Regions from separate parts of the Homo sapiens genome. Here all the other regions are linked to region 1. Evidence: fine-mapped expression QTL. A gene starts in region 1. Each other region holds a variant in brackets. All regions are shown on one strand. Distances are from middle to middle. Region 1 holds the start of ZFAND5 (zinc finger AN1-type containing 5). Region 2 has its middle 44 kb from the start of ZFAND5. Region 3 overlaps LINC01504 (long intergenic non-protein coding RNA 1504). Region 4 overlaps LOC105376082 (a long non-coding RNA gene).

What was found. PIP is the estimated chance that this variant, and not a neighbour inherited with it, causes the effect. A credible set is the group of variants that fine-mapping cannot tell apart.
Region 2: its variant is the best candidate, but not a certain one, in a credible set for the expression of ZFAND5 in whole blood (INTERVAL, PIP 0.52).
Region 3: its variant is the best candidate, but not a certain one, in a credible set for the expression of ZFAND5 in whole blood (INTERVAL, PIP 0.57).
Region 4: its variant is the best candidate, but not a certain one, in a credible set for the expression of ZFAND5 in whole blood (INTERVAL, PIP 0.53).

The regions. Positions count from the first base shown.
Region 1 is chr9:72,362,729-72,367,882 of GRCh38, reverse strand. It overlaps ZFAND5 (zinc finger AN1-type containing 5), which reads left to right and starts at 2,675. Exons shown (of 7, transcript NM_001102420.3): 1 at 2,675-3,187; 2 at 4,277-4,413. RefSeq lists silencers at 2,437-2,816, 2,827-3,656 and enhancers at 2,264-2,968, 2,969-3,672.
Region 2 is chr9:72,407,062-72,412,215 of GRCh38, reverse strand. No RefSeq gene overlaps it. Among named protein-coding and RNA genes, the nearest start is that of ZFAND5, 44 kb to the right of the region's middle. The variant T/AT (reference allele first, on the strand shown) is at 2,615.
Region 3 is chr9:72,325,053-72,330,206 of GRCh38, reverse strand. LINC01504 (long intergenic non-protein coding RNA 1504) reads right to left here. Exons shown (of 5, transcript NR_110952.1): 3 at 1,486-1,543. Among named protein-coding and RNA genes, the nearest start is that of LINC01504, 22 kb to the right of the region's middle. The variant C/TTATC (reference allele first, on the strand shown) is at 2,039.
Region 4 is chr9:73,240,358-73,245,511 of GRCh38, reverse strand. LOC105376082 (a long non-coding RNA gene) reads left to right here. Exons shown (of 5, transcript XR_929931.2): 4 at 2,137-2,361; 5 at 3,083-5,113. Among named protein-coding and RNA genes, the nearest start is that of ANXA1, 91 kb to the right of the region's middle. The variant C/A (reference allele first, on the strand shown) is at 3,022.

The DNA.
Region 1 (5,154 bases):
CTCTGCTCACTGCAACCTCTGTCTCCTGGGTTCAAGTGATTCTCCTGCCTCAGTCTCCCGAGTAGCTGGGACTACAGGCACGCACCAACATGCCCAGCTAATTTTTGTATATTTTTTAGTAGAGACAGGGTTTCACCATGTTGGTCAGGACGGTTTCAGTCTCTTGATCTCATGATCCACCCCCCATGGCCTCCCAAAGTGCTGGGATTACAGGTGTGAGCCACCACGACTGGCTACTCATTATCTTTTTTACAGAGGTTGGTTTCAGGCCAAAGTTGACCTTCCCTAATGACTATAGAGCAAAGCCCTTTGGCATGTTATATTAGAAGCATTCTCTTATATATTCTGTGTTTAGCAATTCAGTTTGTCTTTGGAGTGCAAGTGAAAATTTAAAATATAAGAAAACAAAAATAAAACAAAAACCTTCTTAGAAGTATATCCCTTAATCTGTTACACCAGTAATATGAGACTTTTTTTTTTTAAACTTTTCCCTTTCACATGGTGTGAGCCATCTGAAAAAAAGAGGGGTCACCTGATGCCATGGTAGGGTTAAGTCAATAGTTTTCAAACTTGTGTATGCATCAGAATCACCTGGAGGACTTATTAAGCCACAGACGGCTGTGCTAACCCCCAGTTTGTGACTCCACAGGTTTGGTGCTGGGGCCTGAGAATCTGTATTTCTAATAAGTTCCCAGGTAGTCTGGAGACCACATTTTGAGAACCACTAGAAAATAGCTGCTAAAAAGGAATCTTGGTATGTTTAGGTCCAATACCTGCAACATTCTTGATTGAAACAGTCTCAGAGAAAATTATAAATGGGTGATAGAGAAGATGAATTATCAGAAGGTGACATAATATTATGGAATACACTATTCAATAATGAGCTTGCCTCATTACCCTTAGACTTTTTTTAAAGTATGCTTCTTCAGGAATTATCTTGTTTCACTCACTATAACTCCAATTCTAGAGAAAGAAAAAAATTCAAGTTAAAATTCAAGTTATTTTTGTTCTCAATAATAATCACCTCCATTGCCTCCCTGCCCTTCAGTGCCCTGGGCAAGCCTTTTTAGTCATTGTTTCTTTATCTGTAGAAAGGGACATGATAATAGTACCTATCTCAGTGAATTGCTGTGAGGATAAAATGAGACCCTAAATGGAAAATAGTTGGCACTGAAAATGGCCTGTAAATGGTAGCTGCTATTTTTTTTTTTTTTTTACTAATTCATCTGCTAATTTAAGGAAATAAATTGCAGTGGTCGTGGGACCAGTGACCCAAACTACTTAAATCTCTAATACATTAATTGATCACAGTAATAAACCCGAATTTGTTAAAAAACAAAACAAAAGGTTGTTATGCTCCAGGTACTTTGCTAACTGTGGCGGAGAACTGTTTGATTTGGCAGTGGTGGCTCAAGCTATCAGTATAGCATTCCCCCAAATACAGATTATAAATAAGGACCACCTGAAGCGCAATATGGGCCCCCCCCCACCCCCGCTCCCACCCCGGAACAACCAAAACCATATCCAGGGGAGATGCGTAGGAATCTTTAATCACCCCAGGTGATTTTTTTTCTGATTACCAACTTTGAGAAACACTGAAGGGACCTCTTCTCCATTCTATATGTGGCTAATATAAACCCTAAACATCATTTCTATGTATTCGTTAGACCGTTGTTTACTAGAAAATTTCAGAAGTCCTTTCCGACTTAGTAATTTTGTTATTTTGAGTTGAACTGAAATTCACTTGGAGCGGTCAGTTGAAAATGTTTTTTGTTTGTGCTCTGAAAAGGTTCCCAGTGTTCCGGGTAAAGTCATCCTTTCACCCATGGGGGACCTGTGCCTCGTGCCTGAACTGCCCGCCTAGTACCTCCCCCCTTGAACTTCCTCTCGCAAGCCTCCTCCTCCCGCTTCATCTGGGCCTCGGGTCTAGCTTGTTTTGTCCCTTCGCGGCTTTTGAGTAGAACATTTGGTGCTTTCCCAGTTCACGACGCTTTGCTGGAATCGTCAATTTCCAGGGATTTCACAGGCTGGCCAAAACAGTTTGTTCAGAACAGCGCCGCCGGGGCATTGGCAGCCCTGGGCGGCCGCGCGTTTCCTCACTCCGCACAACCACCCGTGACCTTGGGCGAGCGAACGCACGCCGCCAGCTGCGTCAGGGCCACGCTCGGGCTGGACTTCGGAGCTCAAAATGGGTGTGGGGAGTGAGGAGGTTTCATAAACAGAAAAGACCTCGAAGCCATAAGGCAATTCTTTTCCTTTTCTGGGGGTGAATCCTTACGATTCTTGGGGGAGGGAATGTCTGCCCAGGGCTGGAGACAAAGCGTGAGAACTAGGATGGCGAAAAACGGGTTTGAATGAGAAAATCCGAAGGAGGGAGGCTGAGGGCGGACAATTGGGTTAAAAATAGAAACGCATCCTCCACAGGACTCGCTCTTCCCAGCTCCACCCTAGGGGCCGACTGCCAGGCCAGTGGCTGGGCTCCGCGAGAAGGCACAGCAACCCGTCTCGGCCCCGCCTCCTGGACCTACTGACAGGGCACCGGGGGCGTGGCCTTGGGCCCGCGACGTCACCGCGCTCCCCGCCGCCGCCGCCGCCGCCGGGGTTTTCGCTGACGCACGGGTCCCGCCCCCTCCCCCTCTTTTCCCTCACAGCCCGGGCGCCGGGCGGCGAGTGCGTTAGTCGGCCGGGACGCGGAGCTGTGTGCATCTCCTACGCGGGCTCGCTCGCTCCCGGGAGCCGCGCAGCTTCCCCGGCGGTGGCAGGAGCGGCGAAGAGCGCCATCAGCGGGCCCTTACGGCCCCAGGCCTCGCGGCGCGCGGTCCGCTCGCCCTCCTCGTCCGCCCAACCTGCGGCCTGTGGAGGCGTGAGGCGACGACAGGCGAGCGCCTCGAGCAGCGTTAGCCGCTGCGGCCGCCGGTCCTCCCTCCACCTCCTCCTCGGCCCCCCCTCGCTTCCCTCCTCCCACTTCCCGAGCTCCGGCGTGTCCCGGCCACGCTCGACGCTGCTGCAGGAACAAAGGAAGACCCCGCGGCGGCGGCGGCGCCACCTCCGCCTGCTGCTCCGACCCGCTCCCGGCCCGCGGCGGCGGCACCAGGGCGCCCGGCTCAGCCTTCCCGGAGGCCTCGGCCCGGCCTCATCGTGCCGGCTTCGCGCGCGAACCCGGCTTTCGCATTTGGGACCCTGCAGGGTGAGTGATACGGGGCTGCGGGTGGGAGCCGGGCTCCTTGTTGCCGGGCCGGGGGCGGGAGTGAAGGGACCGGGGCGCCGCGGGCCAATGGCGAAGCCGGAGCAGGCCGCGGATGGCGGCGTCCGGGGGAGGGGAGCCCGCCCGCCAGCCCAGGAAGCACAAAGACGGAGGCGTCATCCTGTCGTCGTGGCCCGAGACCTGGCTCCCGGCGTCCCTGGCTCGCTCCACAGCACGGTCGGGAAACAATGCACGGCGTGCCGCCTCTGCGGGGCCGGCCTCTAGGCCGCTCGCCTCCGCGGCGGCGCCCGGCGTGGGCACCACGACCCAGAGAAACAAAGAGGCCGAGGCGGCGGCCGCGCCCCCTGCCCGTTGCAGCCCCCCCTAGCTCTCCCCTAAGAGGAGCCGTTCGGGGTCGGGGGTCGGGGGTCGGGGATCCGCGTGGGGCCTGCAGGCGAAGGGCTGGCCGGGCCTGCTGAGCTGCTGTTCTGCATGACTCAGTGGTTTTCGGAGAGGGCCCTGTTGGGCTTTATTGAGTGAGGCCTTTGCTTAGAGGGGGATGGGGTATCAGTGGGACCCGAACTTGTTCCAAAATCCATTGGAACATGGGGCCGGGGGTTCTCGGCGTCGTCTTTTGGGCTTCTCGACGTCGCTGCGTTTTTATCCTGAGATCCGTTTTCATGGAGGAAATGGAACACCTCCTTTGTTTGGTGCATTTAGGCTGATGAATGTGAAATTTTTTGCTCGCTTTCCACGCACTCCGTGGAGGTGTGTTTTCGGGGAAGGGTCGGATTATCTTTATTGATTGAGTGTCTCCTAAGGGATAGCATCTAAGGAGATACCAAGATAAAGGAACATATAGGTCACACATCCCCGTTCTTAAACCTGGGATTTAGATACAGACTTCTAAAAACATAAACGAATGTATTTTATTCCTTATTTTTAGGATTTTTTTTAAAGAGTAGGCTTTCAGAACTCAGTTGGTGAAAATACTGCAATTTTATCTTTGAAGTTTTTTGTTAAAATGTTTCCCCACACCCCCCTAAAAAATTAAGGATTCTTTGTAGTTGTCTCCTGTTTTCTATCTCCCAGGCCCTGAAAAGGAGCCTTTAAAAGTCAATTCTACTCCATTTGGCAAAGAGGGAACTGAAATCTGGAAAGTAAGGACTTGCCCAAGGTCACTGACTTAGTGGCAGACTAGAGACTTGAACTCAGGTCTCCATTCCCAGGTGAGTGGGAATTCATGCCATCTCATCACATCATGTGCACCTGAAAGAACTGTATTCCATAGGTGTAAAAGCTCTTTGTTCAGAATTGGAATTGGAGAATTGTTCAGTTACACTCGGGTGTTTTTTTAAGCTGTAAGTTAGAGGAAGCCATAAACTTTATAAAATCTGCATTCTAGCTATACCTGATAGAGCTGACACGTGCATGCTCAAGTTGCTAATTACTTTAAAGGCAATAAATAGTAATGGTATTTTTTTCTAAAATACAAGGGGAATGCAATACCTAATGGGAACACACATCCCCCACTTCATCCCCTAAATCCTCACTAAATGAGGATTCTTTTTTACACTGTCTCCACTGTGCTTAGTTTTTTATCAACAACCTTGACCATTTTAGCTTTGACTATGCTTTCATCTTCTAGATTGAGATTGTTCTGTAGTTTTTCCTACATTAGGAAAAAACTAGCAGCCCTTTTTTTGTTTTCTTATGTTAGATATATGAACGCTGCATCCTTAGTTCTTGGGGTTGTGTAGGAGTTGGCAGGCTTTGAGATATAAATAGAAGCTGATTTCAGAGGCCCCTGTTGACTAGGCTTTATGTGAGAGCCTCCATCCAGCTCAGCTTGTCACATTGCAGCCTTGTGACAGGCTGAAGCGCCCTCCCATGTGATCTGAGCTTCTGAGAAATATTAAAGCAAGCTGTGCACATGTGATGGCATTTAAAAGCTGGCTTTCTAGGGGAAA
Region 2 (5,154 bases), 44 kb before region 1:
ACTGGCCTAGATGTTGCGGGGAAGGTATACTGTATATATAATTAACATTTAAATTGGTAGACTTTGAGTAAAGCAGATTTCCCTCCATAATGTGTGTGGCATCATCTAATCAGTTGAAGGCCTTGAAAGAAAAGATTGAGGTCACCTGAAGAAGAGAGAATTCTGCCTCCAGACTGCCTTTGGATACAAAACTACATCAACTCCTGCTGGAATTTCCAGCCTGCCCTGCACACTTCACAGTGGCCAGTGCCCACAATCTCATCAGCCAATTTTTTTAGAAAACTGTAATGAAAACTAAAAATATATATAATTTAAATTATAGAAATTACATGCATATATTTACACATACATATATATGCACATACAGAAATATATATGTAATTTCTATAATTTAAATTATATATATTTACATATTTTTACATATGTCTACATATATTTACACACAAACACACGTGTGTGTGTATGTGTGTGGTTCTGTTTCTCTGGAGAATCCTAATACAATACGTATAGCAAATGACCCATGCTACAACTGGGACAGCTTGAAATGGCCATTATTAAAAACAATTGTTAGGTAGTCAGAAATAAAGAGCATGTGTCTGTAAGAACATCTCTCTCTTTTATAATCAGTGTTATAGCGATCTTGTGAAAGAATAACAATAATTGAACTGTTTATTTCTTCACGTGATCTTTAGTTACTCTCAGGAACTTGGTGCAAATGAGTATCTCCACTGTAGAAGAAACTAATTAAAATTAAAATCTCAAACTAAAATTCATGTAAGAATTCAATAATTTCATACATTTAGGATATAGACAAACCTCTTCAATTTTCCACAGAAGTTCCGAAGAGCCCAATTTTTAAAATCCTGACAGGCTTTTGGGGGAGTCATTAGTGTCCCCAGCCTATACAACCATGGGGCAGGCAGGGTTCTGGAGGGAAGCCAGAGAGGCCAGAGGGGTCACAGTTGAATTGCTGGGCCCAGTAAGAGGTTTGCATAAGATTGGTCTTCTCAGACTGGGCACAGTGGCTCATGCCTGTAATCCCAGCACTTTGGGAGGCCAAGGTGGGCGGATCACCTGAGGTCAGGAATCTGAGACCAGCCTGTCTGACATGGTGAAACCTCATCTCTACTAAAAATACAAAATTAGCCTCGTGTGGTGACGTGAACCTGTAATCCCAGCTACCTGGGAGGCTGAGGCAGGAGAATCACTTGAACCCAGGAGGCAGAAGTTGCAGCGAGCCAAGATCCCACCATTGCACTCCAGCAGGGGCAAAAATAGTGAAACTCCATCTCAAAAAAAGAGACTGGTCTCCTCAATCAGAGATGATAAAAAAGAAAAGAGAATATACTACCACTACGATTTTCTAGTAGTTAACAAAACAGACATACTGCCTTGACTTGCCTTTGCCAAGGTTGCTGTCACTCTAGCATTCGATAATGCTGGTAACTCAAAATGCATCCCTGTCCCCAAGAAACAGTTTTGGGTCAAAACTAGGAGTTGGCAAAAATTTTTTTGTAAAAGGCCAGACAGTAAATATTTTTGGCTTTGTGGGTCACTACTCAATGCCACTGTTGTAACTCAACCATAAAACATGAAATTTCATCAATACATGAAAGAATGAACATGGTAGGATTCCAGTGAAATTTTCTCTACAGACAGTAAATTTACATTTTATATAATTCTTACCTGCCATGAAATATTATTCTTCTCTTGATTGTTTTCAACCATTTAAAAATATTTTTAAAATTATTCTTAGCACACATGTTGTACTAAATAGGCAGCAGGCTGGACTTTGCCCGCAGGAGACAGTTTTCCAACTCCCTCTATAAACAATGAATATTAAGAATGATAAAACTGGTGAGTTATGTTTAGTGGAAAACATTCACCTTATTTCTAAGTGTAGAAAGTCAATTCTGTGGTAACCCCAATGGATTATTTTAGTTGTAGAAATAGTTGGCCCCATTGGTTCAGATATTCACCATTATTTAAGTCACAAATTGAATGTGCTTCATTCATTCATTCTTCAATAAATATTTATTGAGTGCCCACTATGTCCGAGGCACTGTATGAGGTACTAGGATAAAAAAGCAAATATTCTGTAAATTCATTCCCAAAATAAACCTCTGAAAATTACTTTATACTGTTCCTTCAATCTGCTTGGGATTTTGAATTTTTGGCAGTCGATGATTAACAAAAGGAGATGGTGTTAGTCCAACTCTGAGGTATTATTAACTCAAGCAAAACAAAAAAAAAAACAACATTTAACATGAATGACAATAAACCTTCATATTCAAATGAGATAAGAAGCCAATACATGTTTTATTATTTTCATAAGGGCTGGCTGAATTAGAAATAACTATAATAGTTTCAGCTGGGGAAAGGATACTTTGTATTACCTTATCATTTCTAATAGCATAAAATTAATTTTTAGTTACAGTGATTAAGTGTAAGTTTCTAACCTTTTGGAAAATAATGGTGACAGTGCATTAATCTATTGCAAATCAGGAATTAGGGCATCGCAGGGACAATCATTATCAAAGTATATTTACTGACTGCCTCTTAATTGCCTAACAAAATAACTCTGCTCTTATTTCAAAATAAGCGTGTTTCAATA[T/AT]GTTTGTAAGCTTTGATATGACTTGATGTTCATCACAGTTCTATCTATAATAGTGGAAAATTAGAAATAACTTAAATATCCATCATGAAAGGAATAAATAAATATATAATGGTATATATTATGGATCCACCAGACAATGGAATATGGCTATTACAAAAGATGATTCTAAATCAATGGCCACTACTGAAGAAAGATATCTACAATATACCAAAAACTTTTTCAGAAAGCAGGTTATAGGCCAAATGCACAGCACTTTGGGAGGCCAAGGCAAGCAGATCACCTGAGGTCAGGAGTTTGAGACCCGCCTGGCCAACATGGCAAAACCCCGTCTCTACTAAAAATACAAAAAATTAGCCAGGCATGGTGGCACACGCCTGTAATCCCAGCTACTCAGGAGGCTGAGGCAGAAGAACCTCTTGAACCTGGGAGGCAGAGGTTGCAGTGAGCCGAGATCACGTCACTGCACTCTAGCCTGGGCGACAGAGTGAGACTCCATCTCAAAAAAACAAAAACAAAAACAAAAACAAAAAACAAAGAAAGAAAGCAGGTTACAAGACAGCATTAATAGTTTGTTCTAATTTATGTAAGGTCACATACATTAGAACACTAACCAAATTTTTATAAATTATTACTCCCAGGTGGCCAGAATTTGGGGATGATTTTTACTGCCTTTAAAAAAATTTTCTCTATTCTTTGAAATTTTTACAATGAACATGTACTGGGCGCCTAAATAAATAAAGAAGATTTTTTTCATTATGTAATCTACAAAACTAAAAATCAGCAGGACTTTTATGATTAAAATGACCAATAAATTATCATTTCAGTGATAAAAATAGTAACAAGTATATGAGGCTTGTCGGGATGGCAATCCTGTGGTCGTAATAGCTATTGAAATTACCCCGGCTGGGTGTGGTGGCTTACGCCTGTAATCCCAGCACTTTGGGAGGCCGAGGCGGGTGGATCACAAGGTCAGGAGATTGAGACCATCCTGGCTAGCACGGTGAAACCCCGTCTCTCCTAAAAATACAAAAAAATTTAGCCAGGCATGGTGGCGGGCGCCTGTAGTCCCAGCTATTTGGGAGGCTGAGGCAGGAGAATGGCGTGAACCTGGGAGATGGAGCTTGCACCACTGCACTCCAGCCTGGGGGACAAAGCAAGACTCTGTCTCAAAAAAAAAAAAAAAAAAAAAAATCCCTAATGTGAACATTTTTGGGAATGCAATCTATTCCCATTATCCTGCCTTGAACAACACTGTTTCATTTGAAAGCTTCAAGAATATCATGTGCTTTGCTATCCTCTACGTGCCCATTGTCTTCAAGAAACTCAGCATCCTAGCACGAGAAAGTGTTGAGATCAAGTCTAAATCACTCATCCTACAAATAAAGGAACTAAGCCAGAGAGGTGACATGACCTGCCCAAAGCCCCACAGCTAAAGCTATAACACAATTTCTCTCATTTTTGTGCCAGTCATAGAAAGTTACCTTGAACCCATCATCAGAATGTCGTAGTACACTAGAAGTCCCACATGAAACCAAACTAAGATCATGCTGGAATGTATTGGCATCCCAGCCTCCATTGTATTCATAGAGCTCTGGGGAGTGTAATGCTGAAGGACTGGAGGAAGACCCAGACACACATCTGTGATGCTGCACTTGGCAAAAATGGGGAGGTGGAGTGACATCGAGTCTCTTAGACGCACACAGATTTGGAAGAAAGAAGCTTCTGCCTGTCATACACTGCCCAGGCCTTAAAAAAAAAACAATAAAAATACTTACACCATGCATTCACAGACAGGTTCAGATGTGACATTGTGCAGCTGTTTATTAATAAAGGGGTAACATTTGAAACAAAAGAAGTAAATACAATTCTGTAGTATATGAAGAACAGAGAACGTAAATGTAAGGCTTGGGTGAAGGAAAATATTCAGTCAAAGGTAATAACAAAAGCTAATAGCTATAATTGATTGAGAACCTACTACACACTTTACAGAAACTATTACCCCAAGTTCTCACTACAACCCACAAACCTTTGTTCTTCAATCAATACTGCTTCCCTGTCAGGACAAGTCAGAGTGAAAAGAAAAGACCTCAGACATCACATCACTGGAAGGCAATGGAGAAGAAAATGTTAAAGAGAAGGTTATTGCTGTCAAGTGGTGCTCTGAAGCTTAGAAGGATGAAGACTGTGAAAAGCCATTGGATATGGTGTTTAGGACATTTTCAATGTCCTTTTAGAGTTTTATTCTCCCTTTTGTCATGTTACCATGAAATCTGACCTGACTTGGCTAGCCGAATTTAATCACTAGGATTGAACTAAGCCTACAGTAAGTGTACTATTTTCTGGAAGTAAATGATTCATCTGTATGAGGTAAAGGAAATTTTCCAGGAAGAAGAGTTGCTATTTAGCAAACGCCATTATGCATATTATAGTAGTTGTACTCATTTATTGACATGTATTAACTCCTTCCTTTAGTGAAGCCAATTTGTAAGATCTATAAACATGCTTTGTAAATCATACCCTGTTAATTTCCCCTCTCCCAT
Region 3 (5,154 bases), 38 kb after region 1:
CACCACACCCGGCTAATTTTTTGTATTTTTAGTAGAGATGAGGTTTCAGGAGGTCTCAAAACTCCTGACCTCAAGTGATCTGCCCGCCTCGGCCTCCCAAAGTGCTGGGATTACAGGCGTTGAGCCACCGCGCCCAGCCAAAGTGGCAAAATTATATTTAGTAAAAGGGAAAGGAGTAAGGGTGGTGGTGAGAGAAAAGGCGGTGAGTGAAAACCTTCATTCAAGACTTTCATACACAATTTAACAGCTAACACTTTGATAATATTGAGGGCTTACGTGTGCAAGTGTTCTACATAAATATTACCTATGAAGTAGGTAATATTTTTATTCCCCACTTTGAAGATGAGAAAACTGAGACTCAAGGTTATTTGCTCAGTCACAGAGCTAGTAAGTGATAATGCCAGGATATTCAAACCTAGACCCAAGTGCACTCATGCTCTTAACCACTGTGCTATCTTGCTTCCCTGAAGACTCTAACAACATTTGGTCCTCAGAACCTATTCCTATGAAAGGATTTCAATGGCTCTTGAGCACTTTGCTCTCCATGACTTTTCCAGGAACCATGCTGATATTTCCATTGTTGACATCATCCCAGTGCTGCCTGCAGTTGTGTTTCCTCTTATTTATTTTCCTTATTGGAAACTAGAAGCTACAGTTATTAAATGCATTCAAATAGAGCTGCTCAGGGGAACAGACTTTCATGAAGGCCATACTCTTTAAAGGCTAACATAAAGCTTCCAAGCTCCCCCACCTTAGGAATCAGAGAAGGATGAAGGGCAGGAGACCCAGAGAGAGATTCTGTTGTCCTGACCTGAGCAGTAGACTATTCTATGCTTGTTCACCAAGAATGAGTAGCTGGGAGAGCAGAAATCCAGTTTAGGAAATATCATTCCCCAAAGAAGGAAGTCATTAACCAACATTTCTTCCTCTCTGTTAAGGTATGTGAAATGTAAGGAGAATGATTAAGAACCTAACAGGTAACAGTGATTAAGAGAAGAGGACTGGCCATCAATGGTAGACTGGATTAAGCAAATGTGGCACATATACACCATGGAATAGTATGTAGCCATAAAAAAGGATGAGTTCATGTCCTTTGTAGGGACATGGATGAAGCTGGAAACCATCATTCTGAGCAAACTATCTCAAGGACAGAAAACCAAACACCACGTGTTCTCATTCATAGGTGGGAATTGAACAATGAGAACACTTGGACACAGGGTGGGGAACATCACACACCGGGGCCTGTCATGGGGTGGGGGGAGGGGGAGGGATGGCATTAGGAGGAATACCTAAGGTAAATGACGAGTTGATGGGTGCAGCACACCAACATGGCACATGTATACATATGTAACAAACCTGCACGTTGTGCACGTGTACCCTGGAACTTAAAGTATAATAACAAATGTATATATATAAATTTTTTTTAAAAAAGAGAAGAGAATTGGAATCAGATTGCTTGGGTTCAATTCTGGTTTCATGACTTACTAGCCAAGTGAATCTTTGTGCAAATTACTTCAACTTCTCCAGATGTCAGTTTCTTCATCTGTACAAGGAATAATAATAATGCCTATTTTATAAGATTGCTGTGAAAGTTTAATGTAATTATCTATTTAAAGCTGAATATAACAAGTGCTAAATAAATATTAGATATTTGTTAACACAACTTGGGAAAGCAGGTGGTGAGGGTTGTATTAGCTTCCTAGGGCTTCTGTAACAAATGTCCACAAACTGAGTGGCTTAAAACAATAGAAATTTATTCTTCACAATCTGGGGCCCAGAAGTCTGAAATTTATGTGTTGGCAGGAATTCACTCCCTCTGCATTCCAGGTGCCTATATCCCTCCAATCTCTGCCTCCATTTTCACATGGCGTTCTCTGTGTGTCTTCTCTTCTGTCTCTTTAAGGACACTTATCATTGGGTGTAGTCCAGGATGATCTCATCTTAAGATCCTTCACTTACTTACATCTGCAAAGACCCTTTCTCCAAATAAGGTCACATTCACAGGGTCCAGGTTTTATTTATTTATTTATTTATTTAT[C/TTATC]TGTCTATTATCTGAGTGGAGTCTTACTCTGTTGCCCAGGCTGGAGTGCAGTGGCATGATCTTGGCTCACCACAATCTCCGCCTCCCAGGTTCAAGTGATTCTCCTGCCTCAGCCTCCCGAGTAGCTGGGACTACAGGCATACGCCACCATGCCCAGCTAATTTTTGTATTTTTAGCAGAGATGGGGTTTCACTACGTTGGCCAGGCTGGTCTTGAACTCCCGACTTCGTGATCCACCTGCCTTGGCCTCTGAAAGTGCTGGGATTACAGGCGTGAGCCACTACGCCTGTCCGGGTTCAGGTTTTAGAACAAGGACCTATCTTTTGGGAGGCTGTCATTCAAACCACTATAGGTGTTCAGAAACGTTTTCACTTCTCTTTTAACTACTTTCATTCCACTTTTGGCCGGGTACAATCTTTATGCTGTTTCCTAAATGCTGATGGTTCTTCCTTGACTTAGGACACTTTGCTAACTCTGTTAGGCTCGGTGCCATGGAGGATATAAAAATAAAACATCCTGGCTGGGCACAGTGGCTCATGCCTGTAATCCTAGCACTTTGGGAGGCCAAGGCGGGAGGATCATGAGTTCAGGAGTTTGAGACCAGCCTGGACAACGCAGTGAAACTCCATCTCTACTAAAAATACAAAAATTAGCTGGGCGCGGTGGTGTGTGCCTGTAGTCCCAGCTACTCGGGAGGCTGAGGCAGGAGAATCACTTGAACTCGTGAGGCGGAGGTTACAGTAAGCAGAGATCGTGCCACTGTACTCCAGCCTGGGCAACAGAGCAAGACTCCATCTCAAAAATAAATAAATACGTAAACAAATAAAATTTAAAAAAAAATCACAGACCACAAAGTAATACAAATCTGCCATGATCAAGGCCATCAGAGAAGTATAGATGAAGGCACTTAGAGGATGAGAGTTTACTTTGAAAATAAGCTAATAATTGAACTAGGTGATGGGTACATATGGGCATGTAGGTTGGGGTGTGTAGGGCTCCTTCTACGTAAGTGGAAGGAATAATGAAAGCAAATGTAAAGAAGTAGGATAGCATGGAGTATGTATTGAAAACAGCAAATTGATTTTGCTTTGGAACAGGGATCAATAAACTGGCCCATCCAGCCTACCATCTGTTTTTATATGTGCCCTGAACTAAGAATAATTTTCATATTTTAAATGGTTGAGAAAAAACAAGATAATTAAAAATTTATAACATGAAAATTATATTAAATTCAAATATTAGGATTCATAACTAAGCACAGCCACACTGTTTTGTTTACATATTGTCCATGGCTGCTTTCACACTACAATGGCAGAGTTGAGCAGTTGCGACAGAGACCACATGACTGAAGAGCCTAAAATATTTTCTGTCTGGTTTTTTTTTTTTTTTTGATGGAGTTTCCCTCTTGTTGCCCAGTCTGGAGTGTAATGGTGCAGTCTCAGCTCACTGCAACCTCTGCCTCCCAGGTTCAAGCGAGTCTCCTGCCTCAGTTTCCCCAGTAGCTGGGATTACAGGCAGATGCTACAATGCCCAGCCAATTTTTGTATTTTTAGTAGAGACAGGGTTTCACCATATTGGTCAAGGCTGGTTTTGAACTCCTGACCTCAGGTCATCTGCCCGACTCAGCCTCCAAAAGTGTTGGGATTACAGGCGTGAGCCACCATGCCCAGCCTCTATCTGGTTCTTTATAGAAAAAGTATGCGGCCAGGTGTGGTGGCTCACACCTGTAATCCCAGAACTTTGCGAGGCCAAGGCAGGCGGATCGCTTGAGCTCACAAGTTTGAGACCAGCCTAGGCAACATAGTGAAACCTTGTCTCTACCAAGAATACAAAAAAATTAGCTGGGTGTGGTGGTGTGCACCTGTGGTCCCAGCTACTCGGGTGGCTAAGGCGGGAGGATCGCTTGAGTCCCAGAGGTGGAGGTTGCAGTGAGCTGAGATCATGCCACTGCACTGCAGCCTGGGTAACAGAGTGAGACTCTGTCTCAAAAGAAAAAGAAAAGAAAAAGTTTGCCAACTCCTGCTTCAGAAGAACCCTCAGGGGCATAAAGGAAATAGCAGAAGAAGATATGCTGGTCCAGTATTGCCATTTGGCCTTTGGTAACAGCCTACATTCTTGACTTTGCTCAGCCTTTTTCTACCCACCTAAATTTTCCCATCCCAAATATTATCCTCTCAAGACCTTAATTGGTTATTTGCTAAGTAACCTGAGAGCTAATTTTGCGATCTTTTTAAAGCTGTGATTGAATCATAACAGTTTAATGTATAACTTATTACTCCTCCTAGGTAACATATTTGGAATTTAGGGGAACCCAAACCAAAAAATTGCTTCCCCCTGGCAGAACAGTGGGAAAGATATTTGCAAAAGTGAGCCTTCCTTCAACTTTCATGTCACACCTTATAGGCAGCCAATTCTACCTATCAAAAGCAAACTTGGTTGTTAGTTTTGCTGTTACCCTTTCAATTGGTTAAGTTACTAGTATGCCATTTGCTGCTAAGTTTACCCTTAGGGGAGAAAAATAACGGCAAGAATTACTTTACAATAATTGTCAACCACTGAGAGTTAAGTCTCTATGCCCCCTTTAGCTAATAAGGTAGGCCTGGGTAGCTATCATTAAGTCAAAGATTTTTTCATGAAGGAGGAAACAGCTCCCTGATGAATTTGAGATGAGATTAGAAATGCTGAAAGCAGTGTTCTCAAACTTTAGCATAGAGAAGAACCGCCAGAGGTCTGTTAAAATACGAATCCGCTAATCTTACCCCCAGAGAATCTGTGTCTCCAGTGGAACTCAGGAGTTATGGGGGGAAAAAAAATGATGAAGGATCCAAGCTACCTCCCACAAAGCAGTCTTTATATTTGGTTCTTTACTTGCTCCAAGAATCCCTAAGTTGTTAAAGTAACAGACAATGTAAGTAGACAGAAGCATCATTTTGAAAGACTTTCCTGTTCTCTCATTCTGTTTAACTGACCTTTATTCCCAGTGAGTAAACATGAATCAAACCCTAGTCTAAGTAAGAAAACGTGATTTGAGGGAAGGGCTGGATCTTTGAAAGCAGTATAGAATGGAGGTTAGGAAGGGAACTCTAGACAGAGGCTGCCTGATTCAAATCTCACCT
Region 4 (5,154 bases), 880 kb before region 1:
ATTTTTATTGAAAATTAATTTTGCTTCAGAAATCTCACTTATGTCAAGAAGGATTTCACATTGTAAGCTATCCTCTTTTTACATCTGCCTCTTGTTCCAACATCATTTGGAGTACACATTCAGAGGACAAGAGCCTTGTTCTAGTGCTTTTTCTTCTTGTTCATCTTTTTAACTGGGAAATGAATAGAGTCTGTTCCCAAAGCTGCCCTAACTATAGGTAGAGCTCTTGAGTAAGGTGGGAAAATGTCATCAGAAGGACAATAAGAGGACACAAAACACAATTAAACCACAGGGGAGGCAGTACTTCATTTACTTGGAAATTGCTCACTTATTGTTCTGGTAAGATTTGTAATCTTAAGGCATGGATTATTATATTTTTAAGCTCATTCAGTTTTAGTTTAAAAAATGCAATGGTATATGTTAATGATAGGGATGTGGAGAAGTGATTGTTCCTAATTAGATCTTTGTTACCAAACCTCTCTAATATCACAGGAGCATTCCTTTCTTGAACTTATTGAGCCCCCAGACAATTTTTCTTGGAAGTAATAAAGTCACGTGTTAAGGATTACAAAGGCTACTGAACATGTGAATACTTGGCAAAGTATTACCCATGTATTTTACTCAATTAAAGCAATTCTATGCTTATAGAATTTTTGTAATATCAAACTAAAAAATTATTTTAAATATGACACTGTTCTAATTGTGAATCTGAGAACACAATGGAAATGGACACAATTTTTCTTGACGGAAAAATAAGAATGTCTGTCTGTGTAAAGTTGCCGTAGAAAGACAGCTAAACCTGCAGATGCTTTGAATACTATCTAGTTGTTCTATGCGTTCATTTTATGCTCAGAAAAATATGTGCTATTAAACTTAATGTTATTTCTATTACTATTATCCAAATGTTCTTATATACATGAATAAATTGATTGATCTATGTCTAAATTATATGTAAATGAGTAATATGATCATGTTACTTGTTGTTTTATAAGGCAGAGATTTTTCCTTTTTTGCTTGATCTCTGCTCTTGAACCCCCATAGTACTCACCTATTATCTTAGTGTATATACACGTATATATACAATTACACATGAATACACGTTATACATACAAATTCATATAGACATATGTACAATGCAGAACTCAGAGTTCTGTGATCTCACAAAGCAATGGTGTGTGAAACACCCCAGAACCCTTTTGTAACCTCAAAGAGCCATCTTACCTGCCCCCTCCCATATTATGAAAAAAGACCCACTTTTTTTTCTAAGTCCTTTTTTTCTAAGACCCACTTTTTTTTTTCTAAGACCCACTTTTTTTTTCTAAGTCCTTCCTCAGGACTTAGAAATCTCTCTTTCACCTTTTATGACTTTATTGTTTTTCTTTTTATAAAACTAGTACTCCCTTTTTTTCTGTTCTTTTTTTGTTATTTTTTCAAGATGTCCTTCATTAATGAACATTCTCCCTATTGCAATAGCCTGAATAATAAAATCAAAATTGTGCAATGCATTTTGCTGTTCACAATATACATTCCACACATACACATACATCCACACACATAGAAACACATTTTTTATTTTATAAAAAATGAAGTCATATTACACATCTCTATCGCAACAGTACTTCATGCAAATTCTCTCAATAAAGCTTATTTGTAATAGCTGTAAAATTCTATGGTTTGAGTATACCATAATGTATCTTCCTATTGATGGGCACTCATTTTGCTTTCAAGTTTTGCTACCATAAACAATGTATAAATATATAACCTTTTATGTCTAAAAGAGGATATTAGATTACTTAAAAACTGTAACACTTCACATTTCCAATATTTAAGAGGACCCCTTTTTTATCATCCCCCCAAAAAAGGTGTTAATTTTACCAGTCTGATGAGTATCTACATTAACATTTACTATTCCACTGTCTTTTTAAAGAGAACGTGATTATTTCAAGGGACTCTTGCTCAGGAAGATAAAAGTTACAAATGACTTTACTTTTTATTCTGAGAACTTTCTAATTCATCAGCTTTTCAGTAGAAATCATCACATGCCAGTTTACACCCCAAGGCTCTTTGAAGATCTTGCCTCAAAACACCTTGCTTTAGCCAATACTCCAAAACCTTTATTTCATTATTTTTCTCCAGCCCTAATGAAGTCCCTGCATTGACAGACCTGTCTGAAGCCAGACTTCAAAACCTCAGCAATATCCTGACTGAGGTCTCCTCTCTCTGAGACATTAGTAGGCTCTGTGAAGCGAGTGCTGCCCTCTTACCGCATGGCTCTGTCCTGTTTACTGGTTGTGCAAGTATAATTTGGGAAGCCAGAATTCACAGGAGAAACTTCAAACCTTCTACCTATGGGAAATTAAGGTAAACTATTTTGCACATGAAGGGACAGATGAATTCTGTCTAAAGGACAAAATTTAAATGACTTTGCCCTACATCAGTTAAATAATGCATGGTATAAGTGAGTAAAGGAAAACGTTTTAAAATTTCAGCTTTTGTCACTAATATGTTTCAATCTTTCCATATACAGAGATAAGCATTGTATTAGAGTAGAGTATATGGTCCATTCTCTAGCTATAAGTTTATTAACTCTGATATTGTAAGCAAAAGAGCTGAAATGTTTTTAATTGGACACACATCTTATAGCTTCGCAGGTGCCGTCTGTACTCTACAGCAGGGGAAAATAAGTTTAGGGGATTTCCTTATCATTGGAATACAAAAAGAAATATCACAGGAAAAATGGAAGAGATTCTACAGGTTTCTTTTTATGTATTTTCTCTTTTACTTTTCACCCAAAACACCCAAGAAGGAGCTGTGATTACAATCACTGCATGAATGGAAAAAACTGAAGCTCTGGGAATCTAAGTAACTGGCTGCCGCTCCCACAGCGAAGGAGTAACAGAACTAGAATTAGGAGCTAGACCTAACTGCTTCTCTAGAGTTTGTCATTGTCCACTAAACTCTGTGCACTCCAGCCGAGAAATCTGATACCTTTGTTAGGACCATAAAACTCTGTCAAACAGA[C/A]ACTTTAAGGGAGAAAATATTAGTGTTATTGATGGTTAAAAAGCCTCTGCTTTAATTCCAGAACCAGAATTTCTGTAAGAAGTCGGAGATAAAATACAGGCATGTGAGGCCTGGAGGATTTCACTCAGAGGAAAATTGCTCCCTTTTTTACCTTCTGCATTTCCATAGAGGAAGGCTGTGAACTGGTCAGTTGTAGACTGGCCAAGAACCTCAAGTTGTGCTGGATCTGCATGTAAATTTGCTTTTAGCAGCATGAAACTCAAGCAATTTGACAAATGAATAGGAAACCCAACCACAGGGAAAAGGAAGTTCAGCCGAACGGTTGAAAGAACCGTTCTTAAAGGCTTCAAGAAACTTTAAGAGTGTGAGCCCAGTCTATGGAATTTTTAAACATCTTTAAGACAATTAGATACTAACTGAACGTGCCAATTTCTGTTAATATTACAGGAAACATATTGGTAGGATGCTAGGTCACTACTGAAAACGTAACGTTATCCTAAAAATAATTTAGATTCTGGATCAACTGATTCATGTGCCATAACCATGACAACATTGTTCCAGCTGCTGTTTTTTCGCACGCATAGTACTCTGCCTCCATAATTTATTCTTTTCATAAATCTTCCAGGGGTGGCATTAGTAACCCCACATTTCAGATAAGAAAACCGAGGGTTGGAAAGATGAAGAAATTTCCCCAAGCTCACAGAGCTGGTAAGTGACAGAACCTAGATTGAAATTGAGGCCTCTAACCATTAAGCTAAAGTCTAAAAAGAAATAAATTTTATTGTATGAATTTCGACAGTTTTAAGTATTGCAAGTAAATCCGATGACCAATATCCCAACATCAGAATTCTGATAGGTAGGAGATAAAAAGATACCTACTACCCTGGACTAATTGCAAGCAATTATAAGTACAAAGGGCATATTCCACTAAGCTACCGGTGTTACACTCTACATGATGTTAAAACAGGAACGTGATTCCTAACACACCCCAGCGTGGGTGCCACTCTATAATTACACTGTTAGCAGCTCTGTAATGAGTACTTTCTTTTTACTCCTCCAATCAATACAAATGCCTATCAACGTAAAATAGCCACGCAGCTTTCTACAGTCTAAAGAGTAAAAAGCAATCCAGGATGACAGAGTATCTATAATATATTTAAGCATATTGCTTCTTTTTAAAAATGCATTACTGGTATTATTTCGCATGTATTGAGGATGGTAAGCATGTGGGAATAATTAGAACAATGACCACCTCAGATGGAAAACATAGATGCCTGGCTGTACTGATAATAAAAGGTGCTGTCGGAGGCAAATCACACCCCATTACGACACAAATAGGAAACATTATTAATGCTTAATTCTGACTGTGTCAAGAATCACTCTGCTTTCGTTCATTGCTGATAACATCATTGCCTTGACCTTATTGCAAAATTAATGGTAGGCATTATATTATGTTATATTCATCATAGCATATTGAAAATTTGTGTGTGTGTATTTGTAGCCTTTGCAATTTTTCTCTTTGTACTAACATATCGCTTAGTTGTAACTTTGTTCAATGCTCTTTTAAAAATGCAAAGCCTCAGAGCAAAACCAGAGAAAAACTCTTTTCGCAACATTCAAAACTATTTAAGACCAGCTTAATTTAAATTGCCATGACCTGTAATGACTCTTGTGAGCTGGGTCCTCATTTGGTTTCTTGTTTTTTAACTGTATATACTTTGTGATACATAGCTAAAGACAATACTATAGGAAGTAAGGATTTTTTGTAACTCATTTAACCTCTTTTTACTAAAAATTGATGGTAATTTTTAAGTAGTGTAACTAGAAACCTTTATCTGAATCTTCCCTGGCAACTGTTTTGGGTCCTTCTCTTCTGGCCTTACACCATCTCTCTATGCCTGGATATATGGCTCCTGCTGCAAGACCCTTATTCAGTCTTAGTTCATGCTTGACAAGTTCCTGGAAGGACAGTCTTTTGATGTTGAGTCTTCTTTTGTTAATGTTAGGAATGCCTATGTAATGATGACCTGTATTCATTGTAGTGACTTGTGGTTTTTGGTTTTTTTTTTTTTTTGGTTGGTTGGTTGGTTTCTCCTTTGGCATATGAAAGGGGTCATATTATCTTTGGATGCA